4 linked regions of the Homo sapiens genome follow. The protein of the gene in region 4 purifies or fractionates together with the protein of the main gene of each other region. This does not show direct contact. Each region holds a gene or a part of one and is shown on either strand. Other genes may lie near its edges.

What was found.
Region 1: the proteins of LYAR (region 4) and GTPBP4 purify together in Homo sapiens (co-immunoprecipitation; 3 studies listed by BioGRID and IntAct, with this or other methods). This does not show direct contact.
Region 2: the proteins of LYAR (region 4) and RRP1B purify together in Homo sapiens (co-immunoprecipitation; 3 studies listed by IntAct, with this or other methods). This does not show direct contact.
Region 3: the proteins of LYAR (region 4) and KPNA6 purify together in Homo sapiens (co-immunoprecipitation; 2 studies listed by BioGRID and IntAct, with this or other methods). This does not show direct contact.

The regions. Positions count from the first base shown.
Region 1 is NC_000010.11:983,911-991,443, forward strand, and holds the start of GTPBP4 (GTP-binding protein 4), read left to right. Parts: upstream 1-4,523; 5' UTR 4,524-4,569; coding exon 4,570-4,617; exon of another isoform or gene 4,618-5,038; intron 5,039-7,533. UniProt on the Homo sapiens protein: Involved in the biogenesis of the 60S ribosomal subunit. Acts as a TP53 repressor, preventing TP53 stabilization and cell cycle arrest.
Region 2 is NC_000021.9:43,683,552-43,690,574, forward strand, and holds part of RRP1B (ribosomal RNA processing protein 1 homolog B), read left to right. Parts: intron 1-1,001; coding exon 1,002-1,099; intron 1,100-2,218; coding exon 2,219-2,238; intron 2,239-3,252; coding exon 3,253-3,384; intron 3,385-3,964; coding exon 3,965-4,689; intron 4,690-6,736; coding exon 6,737-6,889; intron 6,890-7,023. UniProt on the Homo sapiens protein: Positively regulates DNA damage-induced apoptosis by acting as a transcriptional coactivator of proapoptotic target genes of the transcriptional activator E2F1.
Region 3 is NC_000001.11:32,153,047-32,160,069, reverse strand, and holds part of KPNA6 (importin subunit alpha-7), read right to left. Parts: intron 5,483-7,023; coding exon 5,349-5,482; intron 3,218-5,348; coding exon 3,125-3,217; intron 2,725-3,124; coding exon 2,625-2,724; intron 1,804-2,624; coding exon 1,709-1,803; intron 671-1,708; coding exon 539-670; intron 1-538. UniProt on the Homo sapiens protein: Functions in nuclear protein import as an adapter protein for nuclear receptor KPNB1. Binds specifically and directly to substrates containing either a simple or bipartite NLS motif.
Region 4 is NC_000004.12:4,287,147-4,294,350, forward strand, and holds the start of LYAR (cell growth-regulating nucleolar protein), read right to left. Parts: upstream 3,009-7,204; 5' UTR 2,890-3,008; exon of another isoform or gene 2,457-2,889; intron 1-2,456. UniProt on the Homo sapiens protein: Plays a role in the maintenance of the appropriate processing of 47S/45S pre-rRNA to 32S/30S pre-rRNAs and their subsequent processing to produce 18S and 28S rRNAs. Also acts at the level of transcription regulation.

The sequences.
Region 1 (7,533 bases), on a different chromosome or scaffold from region 4:
GTGAGGAAATAATATGTTTTTAATTAAAAATAATAGCAGGAAAGGCACTTAGCTTACTATTAGTCTAGAAGTTGGTGGCAGGGCTGGAATTGAAATTTTAAGCCTCCTCCCTCTGGAAAACGGAAATTGCTAAAGCATTATGGTTTCCTTGTGCAGACCTTCAAAATCAATTATTAAACTTGTGACAATGACGTCACATCATCAAAGTGAATTTTTTTCACTGTTTTTAACCTGAGGGTCAGACATCACAACCACCTGCTTAACCAGCTTCCAGAAACACTAAGGATTCAGATGTCTGTTGCAACATGAAACTTGTCTTTGCTTATCTCGAGTATCTTTTTGGGTACAGCACAGAATGCTAATCTTAAGAAATTCTGCCTGCAGATATTTAGAATCATTTGGAAATTGATCATACAAGCATAAGTACATGCATTCCAAATACGTGTATGATTATTATCACAAATCTTCTCTAGGAAAAGAGATCGCAAGATTTCCATTAAACCTAAAATTGTTCCTTTATGGAACAGCAGAATGCAAAGAATGTTTTTAACAGTGTGTCAATAGAATGACTCGTACTCAACCCATAGAAACACCCCTTATCAGCAGCTCTGACGTGAGCAAGGGCAGAAGTTCATTAGCACAGGTGCCTGTCATGATCCACGCACAGGAACGGAATTCTCACAGAAGAAACACAACCTGTCTGCATATGCAAACAGTGCTTTAGTGAAACACAGGTGCTGGGGGATTATTGACAGCATATGACCCCAAGTGCAATCCATCATGTACCTCCATTTAAATACCAAACAATTCATGACCAGCCTGGACAACATGGCGAAATCTCCCCTCTACTAAAAAATACAAAAAGTAGCCAGGTGTGGTGGCATGTACCTGTAGTCCCAGCTACTCGGGAGGCTGAGGCACTTAAATCTGAGAATTGCTTAAACCTGGGAGGTGGAGGTTGCAGTGAGCCAAGATCACACCATTGCACTCCAGCCTAGGCGACAGAGTGAGACCCTGTCTCATAAATAAATAAACAAACAAACAAATACCAAACAAGGTAATAACTCTACAGAGGTCAAGAACAAAGCCACTCTCGGCTGGCAGTGCAAAAGGAGAGTGGCTTTGGAGTTCCATGCGCCCTGAACGCACCTCATTGTGTCTCTCCAGCTGTGTGACGGTGAGCAAGCACTCAACCACCTCAAAGCCAGCACTCTTGTCTGTGAAACAGAGACAATCACACCCACCTCACTATGCTGTCCCGAGAAGAAAGCAAGTGACCTGGCACATGGTGGAGGCTCCCTGCATTGCAGTTGTTAAGGTTCAACGATAATTTAATGAATAGAACAAAAGTTTAGCAAATATTATTGTAACTAAGCAGCTAATAAGAACATAGATAATACATAATGCATAATTAATAATACACAATCTCTTTGCTCACTTATTAATGCCTGTAGAATAGGGTTAGTGAAAAGCTAAAATAATTCACATAAAGTATTTTTAACATGCCTGGTAGATAGTAAGTGAGCAAAGAGTGAAGAAACAGAGGCTTGGGGAAGCTGAGACATTTTCCCAGGATCACAGCGGGTGGAGCTGTATCTCAGAAATGAAGCTCACAGTCTTAACTCACTGTGTAATTCTGCAGAGAATGTCAGGCTGCACCTTTGGCCCGGAGGGTGGCTCTCATGCCATTGCTGCCTTCCACCTAAGGAGGTGTTTCCTTAGACCTCCCTGTTGACAGCTTTCCTCTTTATGGCACAGTGTGGAGTTCTGACCCACTTCAGGGTTGTGCAGAGGGGGTCTGACAGTACTGTAATTCAGTAGGACTACTTGAGTATTGCAGAAGCTTGATTCCAACCGCTACAGCCCCTACATCAGGAACTTACTCAAGCCAACATTCAATCAACGGAGTTCCACAGTCACTGTGAATGCTCTTGGCAGTGCTGCCTGAGGTGAGGGATGGCAAAAAAGTAAGACACAGTTCCTGTCCACGAAGAGCTGGCTACTTCTTTTGGAAACAAGATGTACACAAGGAAGCATCTAGGTACAAAGCAGCATGTGACTCGTTCTGAATGAGTTCCTGTGGGGATCCAGGGAAGTGGCCGACGGGCCCAATGGAGCACTCATAGGACCCTCTAAGACCGGATGCCTACTGATGGCTAATCCCCATGTAAAGGCTCCTTTCAGGCAGGAAGTTCAGTTCTGCAAAATGTACCTTTCATCCATCAGAATTACAGCAACGAGAAGGTAAAACAGAAAAGACCAAACCCACAAAATAAAAAGGTCTGAAAAACAAAGCTTTTTACTGAGAAGTGCCTCGCAGTCAGAAGCTTTGCAGAGTACCCTTGAGAGCATCCTTTACTACAGCTGAGAAGTACCTTTCTGTCACAAGGTACACACTCAGAGGCGTCCTGGCAGCTGGAACCTGCTAATGCAGTCAGGAACTGGCAATGTGCCTCGTACTGCAGGCAGCATTTGCGACACTCCTCAGAAAAGGCCTTTAGAGTTTGGCTTCCCCAGAGAAGCCCAGAAGTGTATGATAAAGAAGCTTGCTCCTAGTGGTGTAGAATACATACTTGCCCCCAAGAAGCTATACTCTGCCACAAAATCACAAGAACAGGCAAGGATGTTGATTCTCATCAACACGCACATGGTGTAAGATGCTTGGTACCTTATCATTGTTATAGCTCTGGGCCCATGATGAGTCATTATGGTTGTGCATTCACAGACATGCCTTTGTAGCTGAACAAGTTAAAAGCAGGTGGCTCATGCCTGTAATCTCTGCACTTTGGGAGGCCAAGGTGGGTGGATCACTTGAGGTCAGGGTTTGAGACCAGCCTGGCTAATATGGTAAAACCCTGTCTCTACTAAAAATACAAAATATTAGCCGGGAGTGGTGGCAGGTGCCTGTAATCCCAGCTACTTGGGAGGCTGAGGCAGGAGAATGGCTTGAACCCTGGAGGCGGAGGTTGCAGTGAGCTGAGATGGCGCCACTGCGCTCCAGCCTGCGCGACAGAGTGAGATTCCGTCTCAAAAAAAAAAAAAAAATTAAAGAAAGGATGTTTGCCCATCTGAAGCAAAGTATTGACTGGACTTATCTAAATACCGGATTACAAGAAAAAGAGGAACTGGCTATATCAGAGTGAGAGAAAGTGGGAGAGGTTGAGGAAACATACAAGAACCTAAAAGAAAGGGCAATAAGTATGAGCATAGCTTTGCTAATCTCGGAAATGGTGGCCAGAACTGTCCTGTGGTTTAGCAAATGATCATAGCCAGCAAATCCTAATTACCCTAGAAGCTTCCTTTAGAAGTGCCACAAAGATGTAGGAGGTATGCTTATCCGCCTTGTGACACAAAAATGGAAGCATAGTTAATAGATGAGAAAAGCATGACCCAGAATGATTTTCAATATTGGAATGCTGGGAATTTATGAGAGGTATTTTCGCGTAAGAATAATAGGACTTGTTTAAAAGGATTGGAGAGTGGGGGGCATCCCAGATGCGTGAGAAGCAGTATAGCTAATGGTTAGAAGCAGGTTTGCTGGAGCCAGGCTGCCTGGGTTCAAAGCCCACCTCTGCTGCCTGTTAGCTTGTCAGCTGCACAACCACGGGGTGCTTTCGAGCCTTGTGTGCCTTTGTTTCCCCATGCACTTCATGAGGCTGTTGCAGAAATTAAACGAGTTAATATATAGTCAGCAGCTCTGAACACTGCTTGACTGAGTCAGCCCTACCTAACGTTTAATTTAAGGGATGTGGCCCTGGGTTCCCAAAGGGAGCGGCCACTCTATTCACAAACATAAAAGCAGTAAAGGCTCCATCCTCATCAACCTTCTCCTCAGTTGGACCCCACAGGACTGTCTCTCGCAACTGTTCCCTGGGCTCTCCTAAGGCACTGCGCGGAACCAGCTGCACCTCTTTTGCCTTAGATCAGGCTTTCCCTTCTCCGCCCGTTTTGGGATTTAACAAGCACGAGAAAGCAGGGCTGCAGGGAAGCCGCGAGGGCCTCCTCACCACGGCCCGGGATCAAGTCCCACGCGCGAGGCCGGGGTAGGGGCGTCATCTGCTCCACACCCAGAGGCTGGGCACGCCCCGCACGCGCGGCTTCCTCCTCCTTTGCGGGGCTCGCCGCGACCCAGGACCCCCAGACTCCCGGATCCCCTAGACCCTCTGGACTCCTAAGCCCCGCAACTCCCAAATCCCAAGACCCCGGACCCTCCAACCCTGGCCCAGGGCGCGTGGCTGGGGGCCTGAACCCGCTCCAGAAACCCGCAGGGCAGTCTGTCGGAAACCCCCGCTTTACTCAGCAGGAATTTAGTCTCCGCGCTCCCCCTAAAACCCGGGCGTCCTCTCCTCTGTACCCTCGCTCCTGAGGCCCTCACACGCCCTCCGTGGCTGACCTCCAAGCCGGGCGGGTGCGCTGTGCGACGCGGAAAGCGCCGTAGAGCACGCAGAACACGATTGGCTGAGCTCCCGGAAGTGACGTACCTCAACCGCCCGACAGTGGAAGTCCCACCTGCGCCCGACGGCGGAAGTTCCGGGAGTGCCAAGTACCCGCGTGCATACGGCTGCCGGCATGGCACATTACAACTTCAAGAAAATTACGGTGGTGCCGTCCGCCAAGGTAGGCGGCCCCGGGAGGGCCACTGCAACTTTCGCGTTCTCCTCAGCTGGGTCCCCGGGGAGGGTCCGGGCCTGTAGCCGTGGGAGAGCGGTCGCCTTCCGCTCGCCCATCCCCCGCTCCTGGGCCTGACCGTCTGGCCGCGTACTCGGGATCATTTCCCCTCCCCCAGCAGAATCCGGGGTCCACCAGAGATCGGATCCCCCAGAGACCGGGGTCCACCTAAGACCGTGGTCCACCCAAAGACTGAGGGCCCCCAGAGATGGGGGTACACCCAGAGTTGGGTTCCCTGGAGGGGCCCCGGGTGACGATGTGGGCGAGTGGAGGGGGACCCCGACATGTGAGGGAGGAAGCGTTCCGTGGTCCGTGATGAGCCTTCGGATTCTGGGTTTGGCGTAGCCCCCTCCCCTCTCAGGAATCCTGGGTTCGTTGTTCTCGTGATTTAACGTTTCATAATTTTTAAGTCATTCTCTTTCACTGTTAGATTTGGGAATACCTGTTCCTTTTCAGACCATAGTAGGCCCAGACTAAATTTTTACAGCGTTGGTTGGTGTGGCAAGAATGAGTCAACAAGTGTTGAGTATTAGGACTTTTTTTTTTTTTTTTTTTTTTTGAGACATAGTTTTTCGCTCTTGTTTCCCAGGCTGGAGCGCAGTCTCGGCTCACTGCAACCTCCACCTCCCGCGTTCAAGCGATTCTCCTGCTTCAGCCTCCCGAGTAACAGGGATTACAGTCGTGCACCACCACACCCAGCTAATTTTCGTATTTTTAGTAGAGACGGGGTTTCACCACGTTGGCCAAGCTGGCCTCGAACTCCTGATCCCGGGTGATCCTCCCGCCCCGGCCTCCCAAAGTGCTGGAATTACAGGCGTGAGCCACTGCGCCCGGCCCTAGTATTAGGACTTTTAAGAAGTCACGTTTTTATGTAGTGAACATTCGATTTGGGTCGCAATTACACAGACATTGACGGGCAACTGGAGCCTCCCAGGGACTCCTGCACGAGAGGGAGTTACTGAAGTCCCTGCAGAGTGACTGTTTTCCCCTCGTCAGTGCCTCCTTTTCTTCAGGTCTCAAGGACGGGATGAGCTTGCCTTGGAAAGCTTTGTGGGAGTCTCGTATTTTACCTTCATAGCAAAAGTTGTTTCCCCACTTCTCTCCACCATTTCTTATTTCTTCCTGACAGTTGTTCTGGCACATCTCTTGATCGATTGTAGTATTTTCTTTCTTTCTTTTTGAGATGGAGTCTCGCTCTGTTGGCCAGGTTGGAGCGCAGTGGTGTGATCCTGACTGCAGCCACCGCCTCCCAGGTTCAAGTGATTTTCCTGCCTCAGCCTCCCGAGTAGCTGGGACTACAGGCATGCGCCACCAGGCCTGGCTAATTTTTGTATTTTCAGTAGAAGTGGAGTTTCACCATGTTGGCCAGACTGGTCTTGAACTCCTAATCTCAAGTGATTCACTTGCCTCAGCCTCCCAAAGTGTTAGGATTACAGGCATGAGCTACTGTGCCCAGCCAGATTGTAGTATTTTCGAGTGCAGGAGTCATGTCTTATTTGTATTTTTGGTCAACCATCTCTCAGGTTTGTTGAAGGAATTTGCTCTTTGGATTATATGAACTTTGTTCATGTTATTGACTTATGTGGAGAACTTTAGAATATATTATACACCATCCGTCTTCTGTTCTGTGGAGTGAGATTTATATTTTTAGAGAACAGATGACTTATCTAAAAACTGGGTGATGGTAATTGTTTGGTGATTGGAAGTAAAAAAAAAAAATCACATCGGGAAAGTGTGGTATTCAGTTCATTCTAGAAGATGTTGAGTGAGTGCCTGTCCTGTGCATCGGGTACTGTGTTACAAAAATGCATTAGATAAAATACCTGCCTCTTTGGAAGTCATTTTCAAGAGAGGTAAGTCGAGGCCGGGTGCGGTGGCTCTCGCCTGTAATCCCAGCACTTTGGGAGGCTGAGGCGGGCAAATCACGAGGTCAGGAGATCGAGACCATCCTGGCTAACACGGTGAAACCCCGTCTCTACTAAAAATACAGAAAAATTAGCCAGGCGTGGTGGCGGGCGCCTGTAGTCCCAGCTGCTGGGGAGGCTGAGGCAGGAGAATGGTGTGAACTGAACCCAGGAGGCAGAGCTTGCAGTGAACCGAGATCGCGCCACTGCACTCCAGCCTGGGCAACAGAGCAAGACTCCATCTCAAAAAAAAAAAAAAAAAAAAGTGGGGTAAGTCATATCTCGTATGACCATACTAGAAATAAAACATTGTTATCATGGAGGACACACATGGATTGGGAGAGGAGAAGAGTGTGGTTAGCTGTGGTAAGTTGGAGAGTCAGGGGGAACCTTATGAAGTAGGTAACCTTTGACTTGGTCCCCCTTCAGGATGTGCGAACGGCATTAGGTGCAGAAGAACGTAGAGAAGATCTTGTGTGGGCCCAGAGGGGAGACCGTGTGTGCCCCTCATAGTACTTGGCAGACTGTTGTGACCACCCGTTTACTTGTCTCACTTGTAGGCCCAGAGGGGAGACAGTGTGTGCCCCTTATAGTACTTGGCAGACTGTTGTGACCACCCATTTACTTGTCTCACTTGTAGGCCCAGAGGGGAGACTGGGCGTGCCCCTCATAGTACAATACTTGGCAGACTGTGTTGTGCCCACCTGTTTACTTCTGTCACTGGACCCTGAATTCCGTGAAGGAAGGGACAGTATCTTGTTCATTATCCTCAGCACCCAAGTATCCCTAACAACCTTTGTATGAAATAATATTGAGTTAATCAAATTGTTGAATTAATCAAAGTGTTCAAGAAAAAAGGTCAAGTAATATTGTGTGGCTAGATACATTGGATTTAGGAATCCTGGGGATCGGATCCTTATTAAAGAGAAGTGCTGACTCTTTGCACTGGGTAACTCATGCA
Region 2 (7,023 bases), on a different chromosome or scaffold from region 4:
ATATGATGGAGTTTTGAAAGAGATAGTAGCACTTATTTTGAATGGCTAAGCTCTCCTCTGTTCTCTACCACAGAGCCAGCTCTAGTGGCACTTTTCAAATAAAAAAAAGTTTGCCAAGTACAGATTGCAAATCTAGATTAAATTTAAAATTTAATTACAAGCTCACGCCTGTAATCCCAGCACTTTGGGAGGCCCAGGCGGGCAGATCACCTGAGGTCAAGAGTTCGAGACCAGCCTGGCCAACACAGTGAAACCCGTCTCTACTAAAAATACAAAAATTAGCCCGACACCGTGGCGCACGCCTGTAATCCCAGCTACTCGGGAGGCTGAGGCAGGAAAATCATTTGAACCCGGGAGGTGGAGGTTGCAGTGAACTGAGATCATGCCACTGCACTCCAGCCTGGGTGACAGACTCTGGCTCAAAAAAAAAAAAAAAAAAGCACACCCAGGTAAATTTTGTTGTGGGTACTCTATCACAATTTTTTTTTTTTAAGAATTGCTTACCCAGCTTTTCCCAAGAATAATTTTTTTTTTTTTTGAGACAGAGTCGCACTCTGTCTCCCAGGCTGGAGTGCGGTGGCTCGATCTCGGCTCACTGCAAGCTCTGCCTCCTGAGTTCACGCCATTCTCCTGCCTCAGCCTCCCGAGTAGCTGGGACTACAGGCGCCCGCCATCACGCCCGGCTAATATTTTGTATTTTTAGTAGAGACGGGGTTTTGCCGTGTTAGCCAGGATGGTCTCGATGTCCTGACCTTGTGATCCACCCGCCTCAGCCTCCCAAAGTGCTGGGATTACAGGCATGAGCCACCGCGCCCGGCCTGAACATGCATTTTTCAAAGGTAGTGCTTGTGCTCCTGGTTGCCAAGTCCCAGCACAAGCTTGTTTAGCCTATCTGTTGCCAAATGCTTCAGTAAGGGTTTCTCTTACTAGCAGATGTAAATGGCCAAGTCAGGCAGTGTTGTTTGGCTGCAGACTTATGTTTAGTTTCTCTTCCTGCCTAGTTTGACTATAAGGCTGTTGCTGATCGACTCCTGGAAATGACCAGCAGGAAGAACACGCCCCACTTCAACAGGAAGCGCCTCTCCAAACTCATCAAGAAGTCAGTAACTGGGGAGAGGGTTCTGACATCATCATTCCTTTAGTTCTCATCTCCTGGTGTGGGACAAGCCATCTGCATGCTTATCTTTTTTCTTTCTTCTTTTTTTGTCCTTTAATGCTTTTGTGTATAGCAATGTAATAGACACATGTAAACTGAAAAGCTTAATGGAAACAGCAGTCCCACCCCTCAGGTTCCATTCTTCCAGTGCAGCCATACTCATCTCTTAGCTGCTTTAGAATGATGTGAAGTCTATTCATGTCTAAAATGAACCAACCAGAAACTGATGTGAATCTGCTATTTAGGTGTCTTCTGCTGGTGTGCTGCTGAGATAGATAGGGTTAATTCTTTACCTCTCCCCTCCCTCCCATATGGCTATGCCAAAAGTGTTAGTTAATTCAGCTGTCAGTGTTGATGTCACTCTGACCATAGTGACATGATGACCTGGAATTCATGGAGGGCCTCGTGTGGCTTGCTGTCATTGGTGACAACAACTGTCTGATCACACTCTAGGAGCCGGGCACTGCTCTGAGCACTTTGTATACATTCAAGTATTCCATGTTAAGCCCCCAGAAAGTAGCTCCTGTAGTTTTGCCCATTTCCCAGCTGGTTCTTAGGGCACAGGATGGTCCTAGCTTGCCTGAGGTCCCTGCCATCCAGTGTCTCCTCCCCCATGCACCTCCCCACACTGCGCTTCGATGCGTCTTGTTTGTTCTAATGCACAAAAATTGTGTGAAGCAAAACATGGCTTCGCCTTTCTCCACTGGAGAATTGAATATGAGAGAGATCTAAGCTATTTCTGCCTTCAGAAACAAAAATTGAATTTCTTAGTTTGATTTGGGTGTGCCAAGATGCATCTTTGGCCCGCCGTGTCCTTGCTGGTATTGATGGTAACCGAGGGCGGCACTGGCCTTGAGCTTTTTGGCTTTTGTATTGCACCACCCTTCCCTCACAGAATTTCCTGTCTAGCCTCCCCTCCTGGAGGAGAACGTGAATTAACAACTATTTAACTATGGCTTGTATTTTAAAAATCAAATACATATGTCTACAGAAGACAGAAGGGATTTCTTTATGAACATTTGTTATTTTTTTATTTTTTATTTTTTATTTTTTTATTTTTAGATTCCAAGACCTTTCTGAAGGTGAGGCGCGCCAAGAATCATCATTCATGGTGTTTTTCGTGAATATGGACCCCACTGGGGGCGTTGATGCCAAACGCTGAGAAACAAGATTGAAAGAACTTTACTGAAAACCTCTGATAAGAAATAATAGTCCCTAGCCCAGGCAAAATAGCAAGGCCACATCTCTACTAAAAATGAAAAAATTAGCCAGGCGTGGTGGCGTGATCCTGTAGTCCCAGTCACTTGGGAGTCTAAGAGGGGAGGATCGCTTGAGCCCAGGAGGTCCAGGATGCAGTAAGTTGTAATCACACCACTGCACTCCAGCCTGGGTGACACAACAAGACCCCAACTTTTAAGAAAGACAGACCAGCCCTTACCTAGTCATACCGCAGTACAGCGTGGGAAGTGATGCAAGCCTAGGGCTCCCTGCAGCCTGCCCACCTTCCTATCCTGGGCTCTCCCTAACCACCAAAGCAAGAGGGCAGACTGCTCTCATGTGTGGGTACTGCGATGTTTTGGTTTGGTTTTTATTATTTTAACTAGATGGATTTTCAATGGCCTAGGAAGGTTTTAATTGGATACTCTATGAAGGTAAAAAATGTAATTTCTCAGGATCCCTTTCATTTGCTCTTATGGTCAATGGTCCCCCCGGGAAAGGCTGATGCTGTAAGCTTTGTTACATTTGGACAAGTCAGTGAAGTTACCCCATACCCGTCATTCACTAGGGACACTTGGAATTGGGAAAGGCACCAGCAAGCTGGTTGGAATGCAGAGACTGCATTAGCCAAGCGTCCGGGGTCCAGCCATGGAGGGTGTCACCGAGGGCTTGTGATCCCTTGCCTTGCCTTGGTTGAGAAATCCACAAAGCTTTTTTAAGTCTGTAATTCCTGTGTCAGCAGCGCTCAGGTTTGGGTGGGAGAAACGGTGAGGAACGATGATGATGAGGCAGAAATTGGGAGGGGTGCTGCTCTTAGGCCCCTGGGGCAGAGTCTTGAGCGCCTGGGGAAGCTAACAGTGTGTCACTCTGGCATCTAGGAAGCAGTATATCTCAACTCAGTTTTGCGGAGGACATTTCTGCTGATGAAGATGACCAAATCCTCAGTCAAGGAAAGCATAAGAAGAAAGGAAATAAACTTTTAGAGAAAACTAACTTGGAAAAGGAGAAAGGTAAGCTGTAAAGCTAAAAAGAAGGGCACGACTCAGCCCTTGGGGAGCGGCATGCACCATGGAGGCCTCGGAGACTTGAGCTCGTGCCGTCATAAAGCATTAGCAGAGCCCAAAGCTTCAGTCTTTAATGGCTGAGAGGTAAAGGCGGTTTTCCAAGTGTTGTGCTGTTTTTGGTGGAGCCGCGTCCCCACCTCACCCCGCTCACGTCCGCCTGCTCTCCAGGGCACCTCTGCAGGGAAGCAGGAGCTGCAGGGAGCACTGGGGGGCGGCTGTTTGATGACCACTCGAGATCTATGGTTTTTACCCTTGAGCCCTAAAATTAGTGGAAATGGGACTATTTCAGTTCCATATGTGTTTATAAACGGACAGAAGGAAGGCTTCCAGTCACAGTTGGGGATGGAGGAAGTGGGACCAGACGACAAAGGTAGTGGGCGCACCAAGTACCTCAAGGGAGACAGGAACTTTCCTCGTGGTAGAATGTCAGGAAATTGCGTCCGCCAGTCATACTGTCTGAGAATCGCCAGCAGGACTCTGGCCCAGCTGGCACTGGGTGCTTGTTGATGGGTTTCTGTCTTTTTAGGAAGCAGAGTCTTTTGTGTAGAGGAAGAGGACAGTGAAAGCAGTCTTCAAAAGAGAAGAAGGAAGAAGAAGAAGAAGCACCACCTGCAGCCTGAAAATCCAGGCCCAGGGGGTGCAGCCCCATCCCTGGAACAGAACCGGGGCAGGGAGCCCGAGGCCTCTGGGCTGAAAGCCCTGAAGGCACGTGTGGCCGAGCCAGGTGCAGAGGCCACGTCCAGCACTGGGGAGGAGAGTGGCTCCGAGCATCCTCCAGCCGTCCCCATGCACAATAAAAGGAAACGGCCACGGAAGAAGAGCCCGAGGGCCCACAGGGAAATGTTGGAATCAGCAGTGTTGCCCCCAGAGGACATGTCTCAGAGTGGCCCGAGTGGCAGTCATCCTCAGGGACCTAGAGGGTCCCCGACAGGTGGAGCCCAACTCCTAAAAAGGAAGCGGAAACTTGGAGTTGTGCCCGTCAATGGCAGTGGCCTGTCCACGCCGGCCTGGCCTCCATTGCAGCAGGAAGGCCCTCCCACAGGCCCCGCAGAGGGGGCGAACAGCCACACCACGCTGCCCCAGCGCAGGAGGCTGCAGAAAAAGAAGGCAGGGCCCGGCAGCCTGGAGCTCTGTGGCCTGCCCAGCCAGAAAACAGCAAGTTTGAAAAAGAGGAAGAAAATGAGAGTGATGTCAAACTTGGTGGAGCACAACGGGGTGCTGGAGTCCGAAGCTGGGCAACCCCAGGCTCTGGTAAGGTGGGAGCACCCACAGGCCAGCTCGCCACAGAGGCACTCACTCGCGTCCATGGGGCTCCACTGCCTCCTGAGAGGAAGGGTGGGGGCTGGCGGCCAGGCCTCTGGACTCAGCAGCAGTTAGAATAGGGTGTGTTCATAACAGCCTTCACTAAGGAGGAAATCACAGGTGACCAGTACTTCGGTCCTCCTCATCGGCCACCTTCACTCCCTTAGGCCACATGCTTGGGTTCGGGAGGGCCCACTCCAAGCTGGGAAAGTTATCCCTTGGGCCAGGCACTCCTGCCCCAGGCGTGTTCAGGCCAGTCTAGGCCTCTGTCAAAGGCAGGTCTGGTTTTCTTCATCAGCGCATGGCCAGTCCAGGCCCCTTTGGCAAAAGAGGAAGCCCAAAATTCTCTTGCTTCACTCACCTTCTTTTCTATATTCTTTTCTTTTCTTAGCTTCCCCCCTACCCCCCAGCTCAAGAAACTTCACTAGCAGGACCACTTATCTTCTTAATGGAAAGACTTTCCTTCCACTTTGATTTCTAGAGCCAGATATAAATGAGGAACCAAGCTGTTGATCTGGTCTTGGGTCTGGCTGTGTCACCCAGGCTGGAGTGCGGTGGCACAATCTCGGCTCACTGCAACCTCCACCTCCCAGGTTCAAGCGATTCTTCTGCCTCTGCCTCCCAAGTAGCTGGAATTACAGATACACATCACCATGCCCAGCTAATTTTTGTTATTTTTGTAGAGACAGAGTTTTGCCTTGTTGCCCAGGCTGGGCTCAAGCAGTCCACCTGCCTCGGCCTCCCAAAGTGCGGGATTACAGGCGAGAGCCCCCGCGCCTGGCCCTGATCCGCTTTTCACACCACCTCTGGGCGCCCTGGGCTTCCAGGCCAGGGCCGGCAAACGTAGTGTCACTGCAACAGAGCCACATCCACTTGTATGTGCAGGTCTGTGGCCACTTTCATGCTGCAGCGGCAGAGGGGAGTGGTAGAGACAGAGACCTGCGGTCTGTAAAGCAGAAAATAACTCTGCCCTTCACAGAGTTTGCGCACCTTGGTCACCTCTTGGTTTGCACACACCGCTTTGCGGAGATTATGACATCTCTTGTTTAAGTGGACATGTGTGGACCTGGTGAAGCGCTGGTTTGGGGCTAAGAGTGTCTGCAAGTGGCTAGTGAGTGAGTTTATGGTCAGGAAAGCCTTACCCAGGGGCAGCAGTGCACTGAGCTGGACGGCAGGAGGCCCATTTCTAGCCTCGAGTCTCTCCTACCTCACAGTGCCGCCATCTCCTCCCTGGACTGCAGCCTGCCCCTCGTACCCTCAGCGCTGCTCCCTCACTAAGAGGGCCAGAGACATTGCCTTTCTTGCTGTCGTCTCAGGCCCCTGGCAGCCTATTGTAAAGAGGATGGGGTGTTGCTCAATAAGTCCCAGGGTCAAGGGAAGCTTTCCCCTGCCATCTGTCATGGCACAGGGAAGGCGCACAGGAGAAGCTCCTCGGGCTTCCCTGCCCTCCAGGCGGCACACTTGAACCTGCCGGAGCCACCCGTGTGTCGGCAGCGGCACTGGGCTGCCCACACCTCTGAGAGCCAAGTACGAGACCCGGTCTCTCTCTGGGTGGCTGTCAGTTGCTGCACACGCAATGAGTGTCCTGGGCCTGCCTGTGAGGGACCCACAGCCCCACATGGGCATCACTGTCCTCCACACCAGACTGCCAGCGCAGTGACGATTCAGCTACAAATGGGAGAGTCGATCTTATTAACAGATCGGCTTTGAAAGGCCAAAATCCCCATTTTGAAGATGAAGATAAAAGTGGGTCCTTACTCTGACGAGGCGTTTTCATCGCCCCTCTTGGCATGGTGCCATGATAGCGGTCGTGTTGTGCGTGAAGCCTGAGCTCTGCCGAATGGAAGGGCTGTCTGCAAGTGCGGTGCGGAAGACCGCGGGCCGTCGGGTGGGCTGGATCTGCCTGGGGCTCTGCCTTCCCCTCCTGTGTGTGTGGGCAGCACAGGAGGCTCTGTCGTCTGACCCCTCCTCCGCTTCTCACCCCTCGCTCACGTAGGGAAGCAGTGGGACTTGCAGTTCCCTGAAGAAGCAGAAGCTGAGGGCAGAGAGCGACTTTGTGAAGTTTGACACCCCCTTCTTACCAAAGCCCCTGTTCTTCAGAAGAGCCAAGAGCAGCACTGCCACCCACCCTCCAGGCCCTGCCGTCCAGGTACGCACCCTCCCCAGAGTGGCACAGCACATTTCACCACAAGGGCACAGATGGGCTTGAGCTGACAGTGCTTCCCATGCCGGGCCTGGAGCCCCACTGTGGCCCTCTGAGCCTGTCCACAGTGGACAGGTTCC
Region 3 (7,023 bases), on a different chromosome or scaffold from region 4:
ACCTCGGCCTCCCAAAGTGCTGGGATTATAGGCGTGAGCCACCGCGCCTGGCGAAAGTTGCACTCTTGTAGCTGCCTTGGACCAAGTCTATAAAAGAGCCCACTACCACTCTCCAATTCTATCCAACTAGTAAGAATTCAATGGGAGAAATGGAAGTTGTATCTTTATCTCCATGATTTGTGGGTACTCAGATATGGGTACTGTGGTGTCTTTTTTCCAATGGCACTTCCAACAACAAATGTATAGAGTTTTTTCCACATCAACCACCCATTCTCTGATACCAACCATGTGTCCAACGATTTAATTCAATTCTGACTCTAACACCTAGAGTTAATGCAGAGTCCGCAGGTTAGTCCCACAAGACTGCCCCAACTTGAGATACCAGTTGCAAGTCCCAGGGGCCATCTGTACTTGACACCCCTATCACTCAGGAAATTCCAAGAGTTTTAACACTGTGCCAAGAACCAGGACAAAGACCAAATATATTTTTTATTATACCACAGGTACTATAAAGAATCACACCAAATCTAAGCATTACCTGTTCCTGAACATCCTCAAAGTCTGAATTAAGCAGCTCTATAAAAATGGGGACAGCCCCTGCTTCAATGACAATTTTGGTCTGCTGAGAGGTTCCAGAGGCAATATTCGTTAGAGCCCAGGCAGCTTCAAACTGAAAGTGAGATTAAGCAATGATTGAAAGGTCATTTCAGACTGAGCAGCCATGCCTATCAGCTGGCTCAGAACAGTAAGCCTCCTGCCCATGAATTTAAAAAACCAAAACAAAACCTCACAAAACACAAGCAAGCCTCTTGCCCACGAATTTAAAACACACACACATAAAATACAAGCCTTTCCCCTCCCGTCTTTAGAGAGTGGGAAGATGCAGTGATGTGATATAGATGAGAATAAGACATTGGGCTTCCAGGGTCCCAGGTTTAGTCCTGCACTACCACAACACCCATGCATCCTTTGCCAGGTCACTCTTTTATTTCCTGAGCTTCACTTTCTTCATTTCTGAAATGAGGATTAGAATGAAATGGGTCTCTCAAAGTCCCTTTCAGCTGAGTTCTGGCAAGTTCCAATGGATTGACCCATCACCCATCTCTGAAACAAGAGACCCAGAGAGGCTAAACAATTTGCCTCAGGTCACACAGGTAGTGGACTATAGCCTCTGATTTATAACTGAATGATCAGTCTATCATAGTCTGGTGCCTTTCCTTTGAAATTGTTTTAAGGAAGAGATTCTGGCTGTGAGGGAACTGATGGTTTCTCCTGAATGTTTCCTAACATTACTTTTGAACTTCCTGAGAGATATGTCAATAGAAGTATCCCACTGCAATTTCTTGGAAGTAGGGCTTTCATCTAATAACCCCTTCCCAGTAGTGGGGGACTGGGGGTGGGATGGGGATAAGTAATGGGTACAAAAAAACCCAGAAAGAATTAATAAGACCTACTATTTGGTAACACAATAGGGTGACTATAGTCAATAATAACTACACAATTTAAAATAACTTAAAGTGTATAATTGGATTGTTTGTAACTTAAAGGATAAATGCTTGAGGAAATGGATACCCCATTCTCCATGATTTGCTTATTTCAAATTGCATGCCTGTGTCAAAACATCTCATGTATCCCATAAATATATATACCTACTATGTATCCCCCAAAAATTAAAAGACAAAACAAACCCCTTCCCTTCAGGCCTCACCTGTAATGTACAATTCTCATTCCTCTTCAGAAACTCCACGAACCGATCCACCACTCTTGGAGTGTTGATAACTTCATCTATTGGAGGACTAGGCTCTGGATAAGGGAGAAGGGAAAATAAAAACACAGGAGAAGCTTTTGCTGATCCCTTCATGGGGGTCAGCTTGCAATCCTTCTTAGACACTTCTGACCACCCTTACAAACATTCCCAAACTCCCTTCTGGTAAGGTGGTTTTAACAATATCTACTCGTCTTTGAACTGTATAATACAGCTGGAATGTTAAAGAGTAAAGCCAATCCTAATTTAAGAATGTTCATCTTTGGCTTACTAAATGTAAGCAAAGAAAGGTGTGGGAGAGAGAACCACCTAAGGGATGAACAACCATGGTCTGCACATTTCCCTTTCAAGAAAGACCAGTACTCTCTTCTTGGGAAGACTATTTGATATACTGAAACAAGAGGTATTTTTCCAATCATACATTAAATTTTTTTATTAAGTACCTATGGTGTGCCACACAGTTCTAGGTACAGAGGACACAGGAGGGAACAAAAACAAAAGTCTCTGCCCTCAGAGAGTTTATATCCTAGTGGGAAGAGTCATTTTATTATGTTAGAAGATAAATATAATGGGGGGAGAGGAGGAGAATATGTAGGGCAAGGTAAAAAGATAAAACTGTTGAAGGTGGGATTTAATCATAGGAGTAAGGGAGTTGCTACAAAGATATCTGGGAATAGAGGACATCAGGCAGAGGAAGTATCCAGTGTGAAGGTAGCAATGTGTCTATCTTGTACAAGCAACACCAAGGTCAGTAGGGCTAGAGCAGAATGAGTGAGGGCACGTGTAAGTTGATGACATCAGTGAAGAGAAAAGAGGCTAAATCATATAAGGCCTCTCTGACAAGGGCCAGGCTTTGTACCTTTGGAGAGCAGTTTCCGGAATTTCTGTGTGGTTGCTAACTGCAGGTCAGAATCATCAGAAAAGAGCATCTCCACCATCTCTCTTGTGATCACACTCTCCTAGAACATAAAACAAGTTTAGGACTTTGCAAACCAACATTAGAGCCAGATGTGAGCACATAATACTGCTTGGCATCCTGTTTTCTAAAAAACTGAGGGCAAGAGGATGGCATAATAGGCTCAGGAGAAGGGGTCTGTTTAATCTATAGGTGCTTCAAGTTGGGACATTTGAAAAGTGATTCCTAATTCTGAGGCAACTGATGGCTTCTCTTAAATGTTTCCTCAGATATATCTAACAAAGTTGAATCTTTGTTGACTCCTAAAGCTGACGAAAGGGTCCACAGAGGAAAGAACTTGTCATGGTTACTGGCAAAGCTGGTAGATGATGTGAACGGCCCAATTTCTGTCCTTAGAAGCAGGTGTTTTCCAGGTCAGCCTGAGGCACATGCAGGGGCCTTACCCCAGTGGTAGAGCTCACATAAGAGTCCATGAGAAGACTATCGAACATGGCAGCTTCTTCATTAATCAGCTCCACATTTCTCCGTTTAAAAAGCTGAAAGTAAAGAGACAGTGGTTAAGAGTACTCTCTGAACCAAAGAAAACAAAGAACAATCCAATGTTAAATTATGGCATAACTGACAAGGATATACTAGAGTAGCTGAGAAGTGAGGCCAAGCTTTATACATTAGTCTCCCCTTATTCAGTTTTGCTTTCTATTATTTTAGTTATCCAGTCAACCGTGGTCTGAAAATATTACACAGAAAATTCCAGAAATGAACAATTCATAAGTTTTAAATTGCATGCCATTCTGAGTAGTGTTGAAGTTTCACGCTATCTTGTTCTGTCTGGCCCAGGATGTGAACATCCTTTGTCCAGTGCATCCATTCCATGCTGTATACGCTGCTGCCAGTTAGTCACTTAATAACCAACTTGGTTATCAGGTGGCAATTGCTTGTGTTCAAGTAACCCTTATTTTACTTAGTAATAGCCACAAAGTGCAAGAGTAGTGATGCTGGCAATTCAAATGTGCCAAAGAGAAGCTGTAAAGTGCTTCCTTTAAGTAAAAAGATGAAAACATGAAAAAAAACATAGTATATGTAAGGTTCAGTAATATCTGCAGTTTCAGGCATCCACTGTGGGTCCTGGAATGTATTCCACAAAGAGAAGAGGAGACTATTGATTACTAACATGGAAAAGATATTCAAGGACTTGGAGGCAGAGGCAGCAGTGGGCCAAGATCACGCCACTGTACTCCAACCTGGGCAACAGGGCAAGATCCTGTCTTAAAAAAAAAAAAGAAAAAAAGGAATGATAGTATAGCAAAAGGGTGGGCAAAATCAGGTTAGGTTGGCCAGGCACAGTGGCGCATGCCTGCAATCCCAGCACTCTGGGAGGCCAGGGCAGGTGGATCACTTCAGCTCAGGAGTTCAAGACCAGCCTGGGCAACATGGCAAAACCCTGTCTGTACAAAAAAAAAAAAAAAAAAAAAATCCACAAAAATTAGCCGGGCGTGGTGGTACATGCCTATAGTCCAGCTATGCAGGAGGCTGAGGAAGAAGGATCACTTGAGCCCGGGAGCTTGAGGCTGCAGTGAGCTGAGATCATGTCACTCACTGCACTCACTGCACTCCAGCCTGGGTGACAGAGTGAGACCTTGTCTCAATAAATAAATAAATAAATAAATAAATAAATAAATAAATAATAATAATCAGGTGACTGAATCTGTTGGCGGGGTGGCGTAGGAGTGCAGATGGTGAGGCATTATTATAGTCTCAGGCTGGGCGTGGTGGCTTACGCCTGTAATCCCAGCACTATGGGAGGCTGAGGCGGGCAGATCTGGGCAGATCACAAGGTCAGGAGTTCGAGACCAGTCTGGCCAACATGGTGAAACCCAGTCTCTACCAAAAATATACAAAGTTAATTGGACGTGGTGGTACATGCCCGTAATCCTAGCTACTCGGGAGGCTAAGGCAGGAGAATTGCTTGAACCCAGGAGGCAGAGGTTGCAGTGAGCAGAGATCGTGCCATTGCACTCCAGCCTGGGTGACAGAATCAGACTCCGTCTCAAAAAAAAAAAAAGAAAAAAAAAAGAAAAGAAAAGGTAACAAGGAACTAGAACTAGAATGTTACAGTAAAGACATAAATGATGTCTAAGTTGGTCTAACTTGTGAAAAGGGGATAAGGTCAGTTTTCTCTTTCTCAAAGCTCCCAACATTTATTTACAACAAAGGAAACTGGATGAGTAGCTCACTCAGTAAGTAAGCTACTTTTCTTTTTTTTTTTTTTTTTTTTTTTGAGATGGAGTTTCACTCTTGTTGCCCAGGCTGGAGTGCAATGGCACGAACTCAGCTCCTGCAACCTCCGCCTCCCAGGTTCAAGCAATTCTCCTGCTTCAGCCTCCCAAGTAGCTGAGATTGCAGGCGCATGCCACCACGTCCGGCTAATTTCTGTATTTTTAGTAGAGAAAATGAAGTTTCACCATGTTGGCCAGGCTGGTCTTGAACTCCTGACCTCAGGTGATCTGCCTGCCTTGGCCTCCCAAAGTGCTGGGATTACAGACATGAGCCACCATGCCCACCTAGTAAGCTACTTTTCTACAGGGCAAGTCAGGGTGCATGGTGGAGGCCAACCATAGGGGCTTGTTTCCCAGAATAGTATGTTTGAGAATACTCCCATTAACTCACTTGTTGCTCTCGCTTCTGCTTCCGGAGCTGAATGCCCTCTTCCTCTCTTCTTCGTCTCATTTCTTCAGGGTTTAGAGCATTGTTCTTATAGCTCTTCATTCGATAATTGTCTTTCCCTGGGCTCGCCATGGTCTCTAGAAGAAAAGATACACACTGCCAAAAACTCTTGAGAGGACAGCATTTCCTTTTCACTAGACTTCTATCCCTACCCACCCTTCACCCTCCCCTACTCTGGGGGGAATACAGCTCTCTGGGAGCTCTCAATAGCACCTGACATCTCTACCCACCCCCCAGCCCCAGTATCTTTTAATTACAATAAGCTTGCTAAACAGGTGGTATTAAAGCAATTGGTATAAGCTTAGTAGTTAAAAGTGTGGGCCCTAGAGACAGATTGTCTGGGTTCACATCCTGACCCTTCTACTTGTTAGCTGTGCAACCTTGGACAAGCTCCTGTAACTTTTATTGCTTCAGAATTTAATCTTTAATAAAACAGGAACACATCAGGCACAGTGGCTCCCACCCGTAATCCCAGGGGTCTGCAGACCATACTTTGAGAAATGCTGTTTTTTTTTTTTGAGACAGGGTCTCACTCTGTCACCCAGGCTGGAGTGCAGTGGCACGGTATCGACTCACTGCAACCTCTGCCTCCTGGGCTCACGTGATTCTCCTGCCTCAGCCTTCCGAGTAGCTGGGATTACAGGCGCACACCACCACAACTGGTTAATTTTTATATTTTTAGTAGAGACGGGGTCTCACCATGTTGGCCAGGCTGGTCTCAAACTCCTGACCTCAGGTGATCCACCTGCCTTGGCCTCCCAAAGTGCTGGGACTATAGGCATGAGCAACCACGTCCAGCCAAGAACTGCTGTTCTAAGCAGTGAATTACTCAGTTGTAGGTAAATAAATGTTAACTTGACCAGCTAGTGCCAAAGTTGTCTTCCATAGTACTGCCACTGACAAATATCTTGACCAATACTTTTGACAATCTACTGGGTGTCATAAAGTATTTCACAGAGATGATTATTTGCATATCCCAGATTACTAATGAGGTTAGATTTCATGTTGTTATTAGCTATATGTTTCCCCTTCTGTGAAAAATGTTTGTTTCTGTATTTTTAAATATTTTTCTTCTTTTTTTTTTTTTTTTTTTGAGACAGAGTTTCACTTTTGTTGCCCAGGCTGGAGTGCAATGGCACCATCTTGACTCACTGCAACCTATGCCACCCAGATTCAAATGATTCTCCTGCCTCACCCTCCTGAGTAGCTGGGACTACAGGTGCCTGCCACCACGCCTAATACGGCTAATTTTTGTATTTTTAGTAGAGACGGGGTTTCACCATGTTGGCCAGGCTGATCTCGAACTCCTGACCTCAGGTGAACTGCCTGCCTCGGCCTCCCAAAGTGCTGGGATTACAGGCATGAGCCACTGCGCCTGGCCTGTTCACGTTCTTTTAAATCAGTTATCTGTGACTGTGTACTTTCTTCATCCTTAATATTGTCTTATTTGTGCCCTCTTTTGTTCCTGAGAACCTTTACCAGAGACTTGACTATTTTTATTTTAGTCTTTTGCAAGATCCAAGTTTTAGCTTCATTGAGTCTTCTCTACTATATGATTTCTATCCCCTTTCTACATTTTTTCTAATTTAAGTTGTATATCTAAGTAATTAAATGTTCA
Region 4 (7,204 bases):
CCTTCCCTGGCTCCCCAACTCCCTCTGCCCAATGTCCAGTCCCAGCGCAGCCAGAGAGATTCTACATGCTTTCCTTCTGGCCACATGCGCATGTTAAAAGAGAAAGGCAGGCAGAAGGCAGTGTTCTTGGACTGGTTGAGAGCATACTTCGGTTCTTGCTCAGTCACTTTAACTCAATTCGGCAGACATTTCCTGAATGCTGACACTATCCTATCCACCCAGATACACCTGGGGCCCTCACGCAGGTCCTCTGCGTGTGCTCCTGGCTGCGTCTTCGTCTGTCTGTATGGTCAGTTTACTGAGCTCTCATCACATGCCATACCCATGAAAAAGATGACGGGGTCTGCACCATAGAACACATGATCATTAGCTCTCTACAAAGCCGTGTCCCATTTATGAACACAACTGCCCCCAATACCACTAAGACTGCTATGATCATACTACCTCCATCTGGAGAGAAAACCTAAGGCTCAGGAGGGTAAGTGAACTGCCCGAAGTCACAGTAAGTGGCAGAGGTGGCCTGAAAGACCAGGCAGCAAGCCCAGGCTCCCACCCTGCCTCCATCTTGACCTGCCATGTCCTAGCCGTTTGCTTGGTGGTTACTCAGCACCTGGGACCTTGAGGTCCTCATCCAAAGAGAAAAAAAATTAAGGTCTCTATAAGATGACTTTCCATGTATAAATATTAGAACCCTAAGTCTTAATTATAAAACCTCTGTGCAGTGGGCAAGGAGACCACCCATGTCACAGGAGAGGCTGTCAGGGTCTGGACAGCAAAGCTAGCTGAGGGGCAGCAGCCAGTGGTCACTAAGGGGCTGGGAACTTGTTAGTCTTCTCTTAACAAGATGGTTGCCAGCTTTTGTTGGACAGGGCCCTGACTCAGGTGTAGAGGATCTGAGCTGGAGCCTACATCTGCTAATGTCAAAAAAGTCATTAAAAACTAAATGACCTCAAAGCACCTTAACTTCCCAGAATCTGTTTATCTGTAAAATGGATCTAATACCTAACTCAAAGCATTGGGTGGAAAGTTAAATAAGACACCAGATATGAAAGCTTCATCCCTGCCCAATTGTAGAAAGGTTTCTCTGTGACCTACTAATTTGCACATCAATGCTATTATACCCAGCCCCCTCCTAAACCCATGCTCCTTTAAATATGACCATCAACCCACCCATTTATGTTCATAAATTCACTCCAACCTTCTCTGGCTCCTCACCCCATGGCTGCCTACTTTACCAAGTTCCCTGATAACATGCCCTTAGGTTTGGTTCTGAGATTGGAATGATTTTTTTTAAATCTTCTTCCCTCTATATTTTTGTATTACTTATTCAATTTTTTTTCTTTTTTTTTTTTTTTTTGAGACGGAGTCTCATTCTGTTGCCCAGGCTGGAGTACAATGGCGCAATCTCGGCTCACTGCAGCCTTTGCCTCCCAGGTTCAAGTGATTCTCCGGCCTCAGCCTCCCCAGTAGCTGGGATTACAGGCACATGCCACCATGCCCGGCTAATTTTTGTATTTTTAGTAGAGACGGAGTTTCACCATGTTGGCCAGGCTGGTTGTGAACTCTTGACCTCAGGTGATCCACCCTCCTCGGCCTCCCAAAGTGCTCGGATGACAGGCACGGGCCACTGCGCTTGGCCTTGACTATTCTTAAAATATTCTTGCATGCACATGCAGACACTGACCTACACATCATTACCACCACTACCACTCAAACAGCCCACCTGAGGGGCCTAGCTGGCAACCCCAGGATATCCCCCACTGAACACTGTGACCCTGAGCATGCCACTGCCTCTATAAACTTCAAGTTATCTCATCTGTGAAACAAGAAGTCAGGCCAACTTGACAAGACTCAAGCCCCTTCCACGGGTAGCATTCTGAGAAACCATGGGTATGGTGCAAGAGAAGGACAGACAAACATACTCTGTCCACCATCCTGCCTAAACCTTTGTGTATGAGGCTGACAAGGGTTACAATGGGTGACATTCACAAGGAGAGAATCTCTCCCTTGTTCCTTGCAAAAGCCCTGGGAAGTAGGTGCACCTATCTCCACTAAACAGATGAGCAAACTGAGGCACAGAAGCCATTTCTCTCTGCCTCCTACCCCACCCACGGCATCACCAGCACTGTTTTAAACACCATCCCTTCACTCGAGTAACTACCATGTGTCAGGCACTATGCTAGACCCTGGGAGCCTCGGGCACAGTGTGAGTAAGTCCCAAGTGGGCCCTCTCTGCTAGAAATCAGGGTTGCAAATACAGACCCCACCTCATCCTCCTCCCTCTCTCCTCAGAGGTAGGTGCTTCAGAGAATCCTAACATTCATGGAGCACCCAAGCCCTCTCATAGGAGGTTAACACATTTCTACTCATGTAATCCTCATCACAGTTCTCCGAGTTAGATTCTATATGTTATGACAGATGAGGAAAGTGAGGCGCAAAGAGGTTAAAAAACTTACACCAGGTCATCCCACATCCAGGTAGTGGCAACCCAGATTCACACGCAGTAGTTATTCTGATCCTAAGTATGTGCTCTGGACCGCTACATCCTAAGGCCTCCTCTTTAGGGACTGATCTCCCAAGGCTCAGAGAAGAGCCCTGTCTCCAACATGCAGCAAGCCTGAAGCCCAGTCGGGCGGTGACCAATCGTCCTGGTTTGGCCAGGCCCGAGGGAGTTCCCAGGACGCCGGACCTTAAGTTTTAAAACTAAAACGAGTTGGTCACCCTAAGTCCAGGACTCCTGCCACTTCCCCAGAGCAGGAGTGAGATCTGAATGGAACTCCTTCCTCCATGCGTAACCCAGAGGGGCTGACGGTGGAAATCCCGTCCCTCCCCTACTCACTCTCTGAGCCCCAGCCTCCCAGGTCGGACCTCTGGGCCACCACCCCTCACCTCTCAGCCAGCGCCCGCCAACGGTTTCAACCGGCCGCGGGGAGCACGTGGACTCGCCGCCGCCAGCCCAGCGCCGCAGCTACCTGCCTCTCAGGCTTCGCGGTGCAGAATTCGCTTCTGAACCACCCAGCGCGCCTGCGCACCGCGGCCACGCCCCCCCCAGTGGAAGTGACGCCAACGGAAGCAGGAAGGCGGTTCCGGCAAGCCAAGGGGGCGTTGTCGTGATGATTCCGCGGCCAGCGGATCGCTGCGAGTGGCCTTGAAGGCAGCTGCTGCAGGTGAAGAGTAGGCGGCGGGGCAGAGAGCGGCCTCCGAGGGTAAGGTGGCCGGCCTTGCGAAGGCGTGCGGGGCTGGCGCTGGTGGGAATGGCCCGGAAGGGAAGGGAGGCCGGGCGCCCGAAGGTGGCCCAGAAGGGCATGGACCCACCGCTCCTTCCCGTCTCTGGGCACTCGAGGATACCCGGGGGGTTGGCGGCTCCTGCGAGAGTCAGCGAGCATTTGCTCTGTGCCGGGCATCACAGGGGACGCGGACTGAGACCCAGACGGCCAGGTTCCGGGCCTGGGAGCCGGGCCTTCTCCCTGGTGCAGCTTCCTCGGCCTGGAAACCCCACCCGCGCCCTCTCATCTCCAGGCTTTGCCCGCTGGAAGCCAGCCCGGCCCGCCTCCGCTACGCGCTGCCCATCTCTCGGCTTCTGTTTCCTTCCACGCTGTAGTTGAGAGTAGCGCTTAAGACGACAGAGCCCACAGCCTAGCTCAGTTTCATTACGGTGTGGCCTCTTTGTGCCTCAGCCCCGCATCTGTAAAGCGAATGTCATAGCGGCACCTGCGTCCCTGGAACCTTGTCGTATTTCATGAGTTGGTGCATGTAAATCGCTTAGACTAGTGGCTGCCACTTAGTAAGTACTCAATAAACGTTAGCTCTTCTCAGCCCTTAAAACAGGGTCTGGCACACAGTGGTGGTCACTAGGTGTTTGTTGCTTAAATGAATGAATGAAAGTTGAGTGGAGGATGCACAGAGTATTGTGAGAAACCTTCACTCCCAAGGTGTGTGTATATGGGTGATAAGGTTTCACTCTGAAAGTGAGCAGTGTTGGGCCTGGAATAGAAGGTGTATTAGTTTGCTAGGACTGCAAACAAAATACTGGGTGGCTTAAACAACAGAAATTTATTATTTTCTCACAGTTCTGGAGGTTAGAAGTCCAAGATCAAGGTGTCTTCAGGTTTGGTTTCTTCTGAGACATTTCTCCTTGGCTTGCACGTGGCTGCTTTCTTGCTGTGTCCTCGCATGGTCTTTCCTCTGTGTTTTCACATCTCTGGCGTCTCTCTTTGCATCCAGATTTCCTCTTTATGAGAACGTCAGTCAGGTTGTATTAGGGCCCACCTTAATGGCCTCATTTTAACTTAATTACCTTCTTACAAGCCTGATCTCCAAATACAATCACATTCTGGAGTGCTGGGGGAACAGTTTAACCATAACAGAAGGAATTCACAGAAATGGACAAGGAGGGAAATACTTTCCAACAGAAGTGACAGAATGGCCAGGAGGCTTAAAAGCAGGGTGCTCAAGATGTTTTTTGTGTTCAGGGCACATATGTGTACTTCAGTCTTGTTTGTGCTCTCGTACTGTTTTTGGGTTTGGTTGTTGTTGTTTGTTTGTTTGTCCTCCTGAATACTCAAAGAAAGTGAGCCCTCTCATTTTTTTAGTCTGGCAAACTTAACTCACATTTCAGCATAGATGTGTCTTCCAGGAAGTTTTCCCTGACCCTCCCTCCCAAATTAATTTCTGCTTCCTCCATTTAATAACTTTGGTACAGGGCTGGGTGCGGTGGCTCACGCCTGTAATCCCAGCGCTTTGGGAGGCCGAGGCAGGCAGCTCCTGAGGTCAAGAGATAGAGACCAGCCTGGCCAACATGGTGAAACCCTGTAAACCCCATCTCTACTAAGAGTACCAAAATTAGGCGGGTGTGGTGGCGCATGCCTGTAATCCCAGCACTTTGGGAGGCTGAGGCGAGTGGATCATTTGAGGTCAGGAGTTTGACACCAGCCTGGCCAACATGGTGAGACCCCCACCCCTCGTCCTTACTAAAAATACAAAAATTAGCTGGGTGTGGTGGTGCATGCCTGTAATCCCAGCTACTCGGGAGGCTGAGGCAGAAGAATCGCTTGAACCCAGGAGGTGGAGGTTGCACTGAGCCGAAAGCACACCACTCCACTCCAGCCTGGTCAACTGAGCAAGACTGCGTCTCGGAAAAAAATAAAAAATAACTCTGGTACAGTGCAACGATACTTGTTTTTCCCACTAGACTGATGCTTCATGAAGACATGGATGACCGTATCTGATGTGTTTGCCATCGTACCTTCAGTGCCTAGCGCATAATGGGCATTGTGTAAAGTTAAGTGAATGATGGAAAACTGAGACACAGAGCCTGTGAAGAGTAGGGAACACATCTGTTCCGTTTGTCAGCATTCCATCCTCGCGACAATCTGTTGCACATGTTAGGCACACAGTATCTGTTTAACCCAATTGGCCTTCCCAGTATGATAAGAGTCAGCATAAAGCTAAGACAAGATTCCAGGTTTGTTGCTTCAAGCCAGTGCTTTTATGAGTAGGGTGGAGGTGAGGAGCTACAAGTAAGCCATTTGGAAAGTATGATGATGGGCAGACTCCTTAGGAGCCCTCTGAGGTAAGCTTGACTTTAAGGTGCGTGAACTGTGGGCCCTTGGAGAAGTAATCTATTAATGGCACTGCTGAAAAAACATCCACAAATTCTATCCAGTAGTATTTGACCTGTTGGTAGAATTGAGGGGCCTTTGCTCTAGGAGTCCTCTCTGCAGGTTGAAATTCCATTCTGGCTGTTGTTTTCTTTAGAAGCATTTCTTCATTCACATTGATCTAAACTTTTTCTTGTTTCTTTTCCCCCCATATTTTCATTTTTTGACGCCATTCATACCATCTTTCCACCATCACATTCCTTGTATAGATTTGTAGCTTTTAGAACTAGGAAAAAACCTCTAAAAGAGATCATCTAGTCCAATAGGGGACCTCTCCATTTTTATAGATGAAAAACTGAGGCCCAGAGTCTCATCCATCCAGAAATATGTATTGAGTGCCTATTATGTCAAAGACACTCTGCTAGGCACCAGAGATACATTGTTCAATAAGACAGATGGAGTCCATGTCTTCACCACAGAAAATTTTTACTGCTTGTCACTAGGTGAGTTAGTCGCAAAGATGGAAGAGAACCTTCTGCTCCTTCTCTCACGCTATAACACCTTGTGTAGCACATCTTAGTCCTGAATTGTGCAGTTCCTTAATGCAAAGCTTGTCTGTGGGATTACCTGGACAATCAGGCATAGGCAGTAGACTGAAGAGGCAGCTGATTCCGATCAAAGGAAACAGTGGTTATGAATGCGGCTTTGGTGTCAGATTCCCTGGCTCTGAATCCCACCTCTGTCCCTTATTACTTACCTATTTTTAGCTGTGTGACCATCTTCTCTGTATATGGTCAGGTTTTCTGTTGCTGTGTAACACTCTACCCCCAAATTTAGTGACTCAAAAACTATTTTATCTCATAATTCTGCAGGTTAGGTATTCAGGCAGGTGTCAGCTGAGAAATTCTTCAATTCTATGTGGTGTCAACTGGGATCACTCAGTGGCATTCAGTTGGAGGAGGGGCCAGCCTGGAGAGGTCAGGATGGCTTTCCTGGGAGCCAGCTGAACCCTTCTCTGTCTCCATGTGTTCTCTCTAGCTGGGCATCTTACAGGTGGCTCAGGCCTTCCATAGCCACTGTTCTGAAAGATGGGAAGTGGAAGCTGTTAGCTCTTTAAAGGCCTGGGCCTGGGAAATGAGCACAGCTTTGTAGCACAGAATCTGATTAAGGCAGAGCCTGTGCAGGAGGGAAGGAGACCTAGACTCCACTACCCCATGGGAGAATCATCGGAGAATTTGTGGCCATCTTAAATCTGACAAATTCCTCATTGTCCTCACCTGTAAAATGTGGATAATAGTAGCACCTATCTTATGGTAAATGAGTTAATAAGTGTAAAGGGCTTAGAATAGTGCCTGGCATCTAGGAAACATAAGTATTTGTCATAATCATTACTATTATTAGGTATAAGATACATTTTTGTTTATAATTGACAGAACACATAAGAAATGTAAGATACAATTTTTTTTCCAGACCTTTTTATAACCTCATTGGGGTTTCCAGACCTTTTAATAACCTTATTGGGGTTTCCAGACCTTTTTATAACCTTACTGGGGAGGTACAGGATTGACATCATGAAGTAATTTAGAGAACTATACAAAATGATA